3 linked regions of the Homo sapiens genome follow. The protein of the gene in region 2 purifies or fractionates together with the protein of the main gene of each other region. This does not show direct contact. Each region holds a gene or a part of one and is shown on either strand. Other genes may lie near its edges.

Region 1 (3,651 bases), on a different chromosome or scaffold from region 2:
GGTAACTATGGTACAACAAATCTTGACAGCAGTGCAAAAAGCAAAGCCTTGTTCTTTTTAAATAGCCTTAGGCTTCTGCCATTTTATGAGGCCTACAGAACTCTGAACTCAGGACAGACTTCCTGGATTACCTAACAGCCCTGGGGCATGCTTATAAATTAAGTTTTATAAATTTTTAAACTATAAATAGCAGCAGCAACAGTAGTAGTTTAACTACAAGAGAAAATCAGTTCCCCCAAACTGAAGACTCTCTCAGACCCTGGGGGTTGCCACACTCTGTGTAAATTAGCTTTTGGACAGGCAAGGGGTCTCCAAGGAAAATGGTCTACCCTTGGATCAATGACATATGCTATTTGGAATACTGGCTAAAGCAATTCAAAAAATCTACACTGACACAAGGAGAAGACAAGCTCTCTAATGTAACCAACACCTGAATCAGACAGGATTCATCTTGGAAAAGCAAAAATGTGAGCAATTAACTGTCATTATCTACTGCCCCTCAGAAATTCTAAACCGGGAATAAAAAGTATGGCCAACTGACTTTGGGAGGCCGAGGCGGGCGGATCACGAGGTCAGGAGATCGAGACCATCCTGGCTAACACAGTGAAACCCCATCTGTACTAAAAATACAAAAAATTAGCCGGGCGTGGTGGCGGGCGCCTGTAGTCCCAGCTACTCGGAGGCTGAGGCAAGAGAATGGCGTGAACCTGGGAGACGGAGCTTGCAGTGAGCCGAGTTCGCGCCACTGCACTCCAGCCTGGGCTACAGAGCGAGACTCTGTCTCAAAAAAAAAAAAAAGAAAGAAAAAGAAAAAAAAAGGATGGCCAACTGAAATGGCCTCTCCTGTAGTTAGGCCCTCAGGATGGCTAATGAATAGCTGAATAATCCCCATTATATTAAGGTTTGAAATATAAAAGAAGTTTGAATGAAGATCTGACATATATATATGTGTGTATGCCTAGTGTTTTGAAAACTGGACTAAGATGCTTATTAAAATATAGAATTGTTAAAAGAGATACAGTTGACTCCTAACATTACAATAGCAAAAATAAATTCACAAAAGCCAGCCTAATCAAAGAATTCCAAAGCAGAAAAAAAAATCCTTAACCAAAACAGAAAATCACTTGGGTATTATTATTATTTATTCTAGAAGATTATAACCAGAAAAATCATGAGAAAATTTTCATTAAATCATGCAACAAATATTTATTTATTGACTTCCTCCAATGTGTCACAAAGCTTACGTTAACCATCAGGCAACTGATCTCTCAGCTATCTCTCCATTTATTTGGGTCTTCTTGACAACTATTTGCTCAAAATGATGTTATTAATCACTGTCAAAGCTCAAATTCAAGATTCCTATCTTCTTGAAAGAGCAGAGCTTTGTTTACATAATGCCTTCAAGCAAAAAAGAACAATAATAACAACAATTTGCTTGACTCCCAAAAACACTGTGAGACTCACAGCAATTTAATTTAGATGTCAGAGCTACACTGCTTTCCCAGTCTACTTTGTCTACACTGTCTACCACTTTAAGTATTCCCAAAAGGATGTGGCTATATTTACTTGTTTTAGCTATTTTTAATATCAAGATAATGAAGCCAGGCTACTAGTTCAGTCTTCACAAGGGACTTGTTATTTGTCATTGCATATACTTAAAGCAAACAAATGAGCAGCACAAATATGTCTTCACTAAAGAATCTTACAATGTACAAGCACAAAAACGGTTTAGGTCAGGGATATTATCTTCATAACTGACAAAAGGACATCAAGTATTCACCTCCCTACCTGACCTGGAGACTTATTATAAGAGTCCCACAACCAAGTTGGGAGACTTCCCAATGAACTGAAAGGCTGAACTCTGATCTAGGTCCTCCTCTTAATTATTTGAAGTTTCAGGCTATCAAAACTCAAGAAAGTTATAGCATACACATAAATTTTTCATTCCCAGTCTCGCTCACCCACAAATGCTAATTCCCCACATTGACAACCTACTGGACTTTGTTTCCACTTTCGGCAAAGAGGGTATGACTCAAACTACTGGTCTCTCCCAGTGGGATAAATCCAATGGGAATCTTACTGAAGGTAGCCTGGGGGGGGAAAGAAGAGGAAAGTTTTATTGTTATGATCAGAAAATCAGGCTTAATGGAGAAGCACAGGTGTGTCCACTATGACAAATAACTGACCCTGTATCTGCCTCCCCATCTCCTTTCCACATCCTTAGACCAGTAATCAAATAAAGCTAGGTGGGTAATTTCTAAAACAAGGCAGTCAATGAAAACAAAATGACTCAGAATTTGGAAGAAATATTTTAGTACTCATTAATGACAACTGTTTGAAAGAAATTTGGTTAAGATAATGAGGGTTTTGAAGATAATATATCAATGCACTAGTGCAACAGAGACTGTATAACATTGTCACACTATTTGATAAAGTTGCAGATAAAATTCAACTAAAAATGTCTACCATTTATACAGTGACCAATGACAGGTGAAGGTGCTTTATAAACTATCTTAAGTACAAATAAGGCAAAGAGAATAAACAAGTTCAAATAATAGATGGTACTGGCATAGCAGTTAATTAAATGCCACACATACAATAGATACTGTAAGGTTCAAAACAATTCTGAGCACAATGTACTATTACCAAAGGGACTGAGAAGGATCTTCTAGCTATTGTAGAAAAGTGCATAAAATAATGTTACAAAAACACCCATGTGCCCACAACCTATATTTAACAAATGTTAACATTTACCTTTTTGCTTCATATGTTTCAAGAAATAAAACGATAGAGATACAATGAAAGTCCCTTCTAAAACTATTCTCCTCTCTCCCTTCCCAGAGGAGACCATTATCCTGAGGTTGGTGTGATTCCTTTTCATCCACATTATTATTCTTTTGCTACATATTTAAGCATCCATTAACCATACATAGTATTGTTTTCTGAATTTTAAAACACTGTAGAAATGCATAACATACCTGGGCAACCTGCTTTTTTTTTTATTCAAAACTTTTGAGATTTAGCCATGTAGATATTTATACATTTAGTTCATTCATTTTAACTGTTAGATGATTCCCACTATATGAATATGCCACAATTTCTTTTATGAAAAAGTTCTTTGAAAAAAAGATTCCATAACAAAATTTTAAATAACCATTGTCAAAGTTATTGGATACCATCAATTACCAAACCAGAAAAGTCCCCATGTGTTAATATACGTGTTCTATGACATGGGTAGCAGTATTTTCTTTTCTAAAATTCAAGAAAGCACAATTTGTACCCGTTTTAAAATATACAATGGAAAAAAAAAGTAAAAGAAAGAAAAGCAATAAAAAAGAACAGAAAAATAAAAGTTAAAATGCAATTACTCTTTAATGCTCACCTCATCTGTTCGTCGAAGAACACCAGTAACAACCTACAAATGTAATAATAAAACATTGTTATAAATAATATGTATTTCCTTTACAATAAAAGAATTGGATTCAATTTTCATAGACCATAAACTTACTCCTGTTTTCTTCTTAGAAGCTCTGTTAAAAGATGCACTGGATCTTAAAACATATAGTATTCTCCAATAGAATCAGAGCTAAATTAGATTTTATTTTTGACCTATGATCAATAATACAATAAAGGCTAAGATAAAATAATTAT
Region 2 (3,651 bases):
CTCCGGCAGCAGATGGCAACGGCTGTCACGGCCCCTTCGCTGGTGCTGCCTGTAGTGCTGACGTCCCGGCTCCTGACTACACACGTGTTGTCTACGGCGTAGGCCCCCAGGACGTGGGAGGTCCCAGGGAGGGCACTGCAGCCAGTCAGGGTCCAGCCCTCCTCGCAGGCCACGGTCACCTGCCAGAGCCCGAGGAAAAGAAAGCACATGTCTAGCGTGGCCCGGGACCCCCACCCACACTTCATTTCTCCCTCCGACATCCTTCTGTGAGGCCAAAGTGCAGACGGCCCTCGCTGGCTCAGAGCCCATTTGGGACACAACCGTGTATCTCCCACCCCGCACCTCCCACCCAGGCGGTTCTGCACCATGGCTGACCAAACACGTGAGCTCCTGCTTCATGCCTGGTTTGAGGGCCGTGGAGATAGACAGATGCCTACCATGCCAGTGCCAAACTCATCCCTCTGAAACTGATGGCCCCATAGCCTGCCCCATCCCACTTAATGGCAACTCCATCTGTCCAGGGGCCCGAGCCTTGGTGCCATCCTCCCCCTCTCCCACCCACATCCACCCACCAGGCCTGCAGGCTCCCTTCAGACTCCAGCCTGAGCCCCGCCCCAACGCCTGGACCCTCCACCGCCTCCCTCCAGTCTCCCTGCTTCTGCCCAAGGTCCTTGTCATCTCTTCTCAGCTCAGCAGCTAGGCCACAGTGAGAGGTTCAGATCCAGGCCAGACCACACTCCTCTGAGGCCAGACCCCTGCATGGCCCCAGCTCACTGCTGACTGTGACCCTCAGGTCTCACCTGACTTGGCCCTGTCCCCTCTGAGGCACCCCCCATCTCATAACTATTCCCACCTCTCTGGTTTCCTGGTACTCCCTGCACATCCCCACCTGGGGGCCTTTGCTTTGCCTGGAACATGTTCTCTGCCTCATGGCCTGTTTCGTCCACCTTGTCAGCGAGACCTCTCCTGACCTCTCTCCCACCCCATTCCCTTCCTTGCTATAGTTTTCTCCATCGCATCTTTTCAGTACTCTATATTAATGGTTTGTTTTCTGTCTTCCTCCACTAAAATAGATGCTCCAGGAGGGAGAACAGCATGTCTCTTGGGCCTGTATCCCTCCCCAGTGCCAGGAAGAGCACCTGGAACCTAGCAGCCCTCAGTGTACCCAGGGCAAGTGGATCCAAGACCAAGACTGTCTTTTGCTCTCGAGGAATGCACCATCCAGACCAGAATCAACACAGACTTGCATTTTAAAACTGACTCTGAGTTCATTTAAGAGTGGACTCCTTAGGGCTGCCTTTTGAGGAGCTCCTACTGGCTTTTAAGGAGAGTTATACACTCAGGTTTCTAGAAGGCCCGGCTGTCACATTCCAGGGCTTGGCACATGCCTTGCTAATCTCGGCAGGGCCTTTTCTTGCCTTGCTGGTCATGCTAACAACCTTCAGCATGCAGCTCAGGCACCCCCTCTGGGTCACGGCTGAGTGAGCTCTGTGTCCTCAGAGCCCAGTGCTGCTCCTGACCCTGAGACCCTCCCAGCAGGTTTGTTAAATAGATCAGAGAGGCCAGGTGCAGCGGCTCATGCCTATAATCCCAACACTTGGGGAGGCTGAGACCAGAGGATTGCTTGAGCCCAGGAATTTGAGACCAGCCTGGGCAACACAGCAAGACCCCATCTCAGAAAAAAATAGATCAATCAATAAATGCATGCATATTGCATTTCTTTATGCCATATTTATGCACATTCTACTCCAAGTGGAGTGGGGTACCCAGGTAGCAAACCTTACTGATCTGGACAAAAGCAAAAACAGACCCAGCCACACAGAGACACATATACATGCTGTCCACACAATGGCGGAAGCTGCCCACAGCATCTACCTGGCAAACCGCCACCCTGATGCATGGCGGTATGGTGGTGGCACAAACTGACACAGAAAAGCTGTGCAGGAGAGACACGCAGCACCCCACCCACCCGGCCTCACGGGCCTCTTCACCTGCTCCTGAGGGGCCGGGATTCCATGCTCCTTGACTTTGCATTCCAGACCTGGGGCATGGCAGCAGGAAGCGTGGATGCTGGCCTCCCTGTGGCCCACGCACTGGTTGGGCTGACCTCGTGGCCTCAGCACAGGCGGCTTGTGGGTGCCAAGGTCCTCCACCTCCCAGTGGGAGCTGCAGCCTGGGGCAGAGGAAAGCCAGCTCAGATGTGAAATGCTGGGATGCTCCGTCTCCAGTGCCCATCCCCATCAGACCCTCTCTCTTTAAGGTCTGAGGCAAGAGCTAGGAAACCTAGAAACAACTCAAAGAAAAAAAGAGATGCTGGCCTGAGCACCAGGACTCCTGTGTTCTCAACTCTGCAGCTGACCAGCTGTGTGACCTTGGGAGAGCCATTCAACCTCTCTGAGCCTTAGTTTCTCAGGGAAAACACCATCTTTCCACCCAGAGATGGAGACAGTGAGGCAGGGGCTCTATGGCCTGAGATGCTCAAACTCCCCCCAGCCCCTCCCTATGCAGCCAGCAGGCAGAAGTTCAAGGGTAAGCCGGGGTCTGTCTGAACCACCTCAGAATGCCCTCCATGGGCTTAGGAGTCAGACACACCCATTGGCTAAGAAACCTAAAATAGTGGTTACTTAGCTACACTGAGGCTCTGTTTACTCATTTGTAAGATGGAAAGAGAAACCACACCTACTCACAGGGACACTGTGAAGATGACACGTGCGAAGCCCCAGCATGGAGCCTGGCATGTGCTCTGAACATGGTAGGGTTGTGGTTACTAGCATTCTCTATGTCCTAGCTGCAAGGGCTCGGGGCAGCCACTCAGCATGTCCAGCCTGCAGTTCCCTTAGCTGCAAAATGGTGCTCTTTGAGGTGCGCTTCATGGAGTCAGATTCCATGACTTCAAACTGACATGTGCCTGTGAGCTCATCGGCTGAGCACTTCCAAAGGGGAGCGTGATTAGAGCATGGCGGACTTCCCTCCAAGCCAGGACCCCTGAACCTGACGGAGCCTCTCCCCTGGACAAGGGCACCAGCCACCTGACTATGCTCATCTTTCCTGAACATCCATCCTACATGCCAGCCTGCTGTGCCCAGAACCAGGTTCTCACCCTCACTCTCCTGTTCCCAAACCCTCAGTGGTTCCCCTGGACGTGCTCAGACGAGAATCAACTCTGAGCCTCTTATTCCAGGCTGGAGTCCCACTGTCTTCCCAGACCTCTCATGCTCCACCCAACCAGAACAGCTCAGCCTCAGGGCACCATCCCTTGATGCCCCAAGAGGTCCCCATCTGTGACTTCCTGCTACCTGCCTGGGCATGTTTTCGACACAGGGTAGCCCGTCAATAGTTGCCTATACCAGAGGCTGGATTTTAAAGCAACGGGTGATGAAAACAATAGTAACGATAGCTAGAATTTATATTGTCCCGGCACTAAGCTAAGTGCTTAGCACTCATCATTTCCTCATACAGAGATGTTAAGTAATTTGCCCAAGTCACACAGCTATAGAGCGGCAGGGTGAAATTCAAACCGAGGTCTGCCCTCCTTTCAGCCCCAGCCGGGGGCCTCTCTCTGGAGCTGCCTCTCCTGGACTGCACCACCTTAGGCAAAGCACCTGCGATACTCCAGGCCAGTGCCCTAGATGCTGCCCATCTCCTTGCAAC
Region 3 (3,651 bases), on a different chromosome or scaffold from region 2:
GACAGCTGCCCTGGGTCTTTCCTTTGTAAAATGTGACAGTTCTAGCACCGAGTGTGGACCAGCCCCGAGCTTGTTCCTCCCAATACCTATGTTGTAGTTTTGCCAGGTGCTGCCTGCTAGGTTGGGTGGGGAAGGGGTGGAGAGAAGTTGGTGGGGGCTTAGGAAGGACGGTGACCATTTTCTCGCCTACTAAGAGAAGGCAGTCAGCTAGGATTCACTGTGCAACACAGCTGGGCAGGAAGAAGAGAATCCCCTGTTTGTAAGAGAACAGTCACATACTAGATGCTGTCTACGGCTTGTGAAAAACACAAGGAAACGGCCACCTGAGAGTACTAAAGTGGCCAGGCCCACGGGGTGTGCTGCAAGCACACAGCAGGCATCTGCCTAGCCCGGCCCCTCTGCAGAGCCATAGGGCCTGCCATGCCAGTGACACTGGGCTTTGGACTGCCAAATGGGGCAAAGACAATAGGAGAGAAAGGCTGAGCTGATTTCTCAGTGGGACTGAGACGGAGATCTAGGGAGGCTGATGCTGCAGACAAGTGCAAGGGCCCTCTGTGGTCAGTTTCAGCTGGCCAGTTCTGCTCTCTGGAAACTTCAGTGTTCAATATTTAAATGTGTGGTTTTGTTTGTTTGTTTGTTTGAGATGGGGTCTCGCCTTGTCACCCAGGCTGGAGTGCAGTGGTGTGATCATAGCTCACTGTAGCCTCAAACTCCTGGGCTCAAGCAGTCCTCCCACTTCACCCTCCTGTGCTAGGATTGCAGGTGTGAGCTCCCATAGCTGGTCTTATACAAAAAAAAGTGTTTAATGTTTTCATGTCAAAGTTAAAACAAAGTGCTTGTACATGGTTTTTTCAAACAGTACACATAGATTGTGTATACAGTGCAGAAAGGGAAAGCTGTCATCCCTTCTACTGGTGGCCCCTGAGGTTTTATTCCCTAGGGGGATAACCGAGTGTGTAGACAGTTGTGCTGTGTCCTGCTGACATTTTTCCTTTTTCCTTTTTTTTTTTTTTCTTTTTTTTTTTGAGACGGAGTTTCGCTCTTGTTGCCCAGGCTGGAGTGCAATGGCGCAATCTCGGCTCACTGCAACCTCCACCTCCTGGGTTCAAGCAATTCTCCTGCCTCAGCCTCTGGAGTAGCTGGGATTACAGGCACCTGCCACCACACCCAGCTAATTTTTTGTATTTTTAGTAGAGATGGGGTTTCCCCATATTGGCCAGGCTGGTCTCGAACTCCTGACCTCAGGTGATCCTCCTGTCTCGGCCTCCCAAAAGTACTGGGATTACAGGTGTGAGCCACCGCGCCCGGCCCTGCTGACATTTTTCTGTGTCCATGTGCACCTAGGTGAGCACACAGAGCTGATTTTGTCTGGGGAAAATGGGATCCTGCTATACACACCATTTTGCAGCCTTTTGAAAAATTCATTAATGTATCTCAGACATCCTCCGTGACAGTCACAGTGCCTACCATTGTATATGTCATCATTTAGTAATTTCCCACTTACTGATGACATTTTAAAATTTTTCATTAAAGAAGAGCTGGGCTCAGGCGTTCACACCTGCCATCCCAGCACTTTGGGAGGCCAAGACAGGATGATCACTTGAGTTCAAAAGTTTAAGACCAACATGGACAACATAAGGGGACCCTCTCTACAAAATTTTTCTTTTTTTTGACGGAGTCTCACTCTGTCGCCCAGGGTGGAGTGCAGTGGTGCGATCTTAGCTCATTGCAAGCTCCACCTCCCGGGTTCACGCCATTCTCCTGCCTCAGCCTCCGGAGTAGCTGGGACTACAGGCGCCCGCCACCATGCCATGCTAATTTTTTTTATATTTTTGGTAGAGACGGGGTTTCACCATGTTAGCGAGGATGGTCTCAATCTCCTGACCTCGTGATCCACCCGCCTCGGCCTCCCAAAGTGCTAAGATTACAAGCGTGAGCCACCGTGCCCAGCCAAAAAAATGTTTTTTTAATTGTCCCAGCTACTCAGGAGGCTGAGGCAGGAGGATCCCTTGAGCCCAGGAGTTGGAGGCTGCAGTGGCTATGATTGCACCACTGCACTCCAGCCTGGGTAGCAGTGGAAGACCCCATTTCTAAAATAATAATAATAAAAAATTCCTTTTTTATACTTTAATATTCACTTATCATAAAATAAATGTTTTAGTTAAAATGTCATAAAGCTAGAAATGAACTCTCTTAGGACCCCATCCTTCAAAGACAACCTGTGCTTTCTTAATTGCATTGTAAATGTTTTAATAAAGTAATTTTTTTTTTCATTTTGCTAGCTAGCTAGGTAAAACATTTTCATGGTTTAGGACTTAAAAGGAACAAAAGGGTATATAGTGAAAAGTTGATCTCCTTCCTACCCCGAACTAGTGTTAAGATTCTTGAATGTCCTTTCAGGTATGTTCAGGCAGACGCATATATTTACACACATACAATGGAGCCAGCTGTATACACTGTTTAGTACCCTAGTGTTCCTCCCTGGCTCCCCAGCAACGTATTTTGAAGATCTTTCCATTTCACAAGTATGGCTGCCTCATTCCTGTTGATGGCTGATAGTATCCTCTGCAGAGATACCGCCGTGGATTTAACCAGTCTTCAGTTGATAGGTATTTGGGTTGTTCCCCTTTTTATTATTATAAATTGTTCCTCAGTAAACATTTGTATATATGTCATTTTGCACATGTATGGGTCTATCTAGAAAAACTTACAGAAGTGTAATTGCTGTGTCTAGGGGGATAATTTTGATAGCTGTAGCTCAGCTGTTCTACAGCCCACTGCCCTTGCTATCTCCAGTAGCTCCCGTGGGAAGTGGCCTTCCCCAAACCCTCAGCAGTGCAACTCAGGTGTTTGGATCTCTGTCAGTTTCACAGCAGAAAAATAGAATCTCCTTGTTTTAATTTGCGTTTCCCTTATGAGAAGGGTTTAGCATTATTTCCAGTACCTAAGCTATTGGAATTTCCTTTCCTGTGAGCTGTATGTTTATAGCCTTTGCCTGTTTTCCTAATGGCTGTTGTTTTTCTTACTGATTTAAGGACTTCTTTAGATATTGAAGGAGGGTATCCTTTATATGTGATATGAGTTATTAACAGTCCAGTACATACATTTTAACATTAAGTTCAGTACACTTAATGAAGAATCACAGAATTTGTTTTTTCTTGCACTGAACACCTACAGTGTGTAGCACTGATAAATGCTTCATCCCCCCCAAGAGTAGAGCCACTGTGTAAGGCTGCACTTGTTATGTACTGCAGAAGCCAGGGGTGCCATCAGTAGACCTCATTGTGAGCAGGCCCGTGTCCCAAATTGCATGGGAGCCCCTTGTCCACTAATTAAAGATTGACAAGTGAAAGGCAGCTTGCTTACCCGATGTAGCACTTGGCAGCTCTCAGAGGCAGCCTTGGTGGTTTCACTGCTTCATAGTTCAGTGCCCCCAGGGTGAGTGCAGCATCAGGGATGGACCTGCCCACGTGAAACCAGAGAGGCTGGTCTTTGGCAGTGGCTGTGAATTGTTGCCACCAGCCGTGTGTAGACAAAAGTCAAGTTGGAGTAAGTGGGGAGAGGTCTGTATAATGCAATGCAAGTTTTTATGACTTGAATTAGTTAAATCTGCAGCCCAAAATTTCATGAAAATAAATATTTAAAACATTT

What was found.
Region 1: the proteins of PCSK9 (region 2) and AGK purify together in Homo sapiens (affinity purification with mass spectrometry, with the first as the bait; one study listed by BioGRID). This does not show direct contact.
Region 3: the proteins of PCSK9 (region 2) and TUBB6 purify together in Homo sapiens (affinity purification with mass spectrometry, with the first as the bait; one study listed by BioGRID). This does not show direct contact.

The regions. Positions count from the first base shown.
Region 1 is NC_000007.14:141,613,910-141,617,560, reverse strand, and holds part of AGK (acylglycerol kinase, mitochondrial isoform 1 precursor), read right to left. Parts: intron 3,416-3,651; coding exon 3,383-3,415; intron 2,091-3,382; coding exon 1,996-2,090; intron 1-1,995. UniProt on the Homo sapiens protein: Lipid kinase that can phosphorylate both monoacylglycerol and diacylglycerol to form lysophosphatidic acid (LPA) and phosphatidic acid (PA), respectively. Does not phosphorylate sphingosine. Phosphorylates ceramide.
Region 2 is NC_000001.11:55,059,897-55,063,547, reverse strand, and holds part of PCSK9 (proprotein convertase subtilisin/kexin type 9 isoform 1 preproprotein), read right to left. Parts: intron 2,284-3,651; exon of another isoform or gene 2,174-2,283; coding exon 1,992-2,173; intron 180-1,991; coding exon 1-179.
Region 3 is NC_000018.10:12,318,136-12,321,786, forward strand, and holds part of TUBB6 (tubulin beta-6 chain), read left to right. Parts: intron 1-2,400; exon of another isoform or gene 2,401-2,527; coding exon of another isoform or gene 2,528-2,609; intron 2,610-3,651. UniProt on the Homo sapiens protein: Tubulin is the major constituent of microtubules, a cylinder consisting of laterally associated linear protofilaments composed of alpha- and beta-tubulin heterodimers.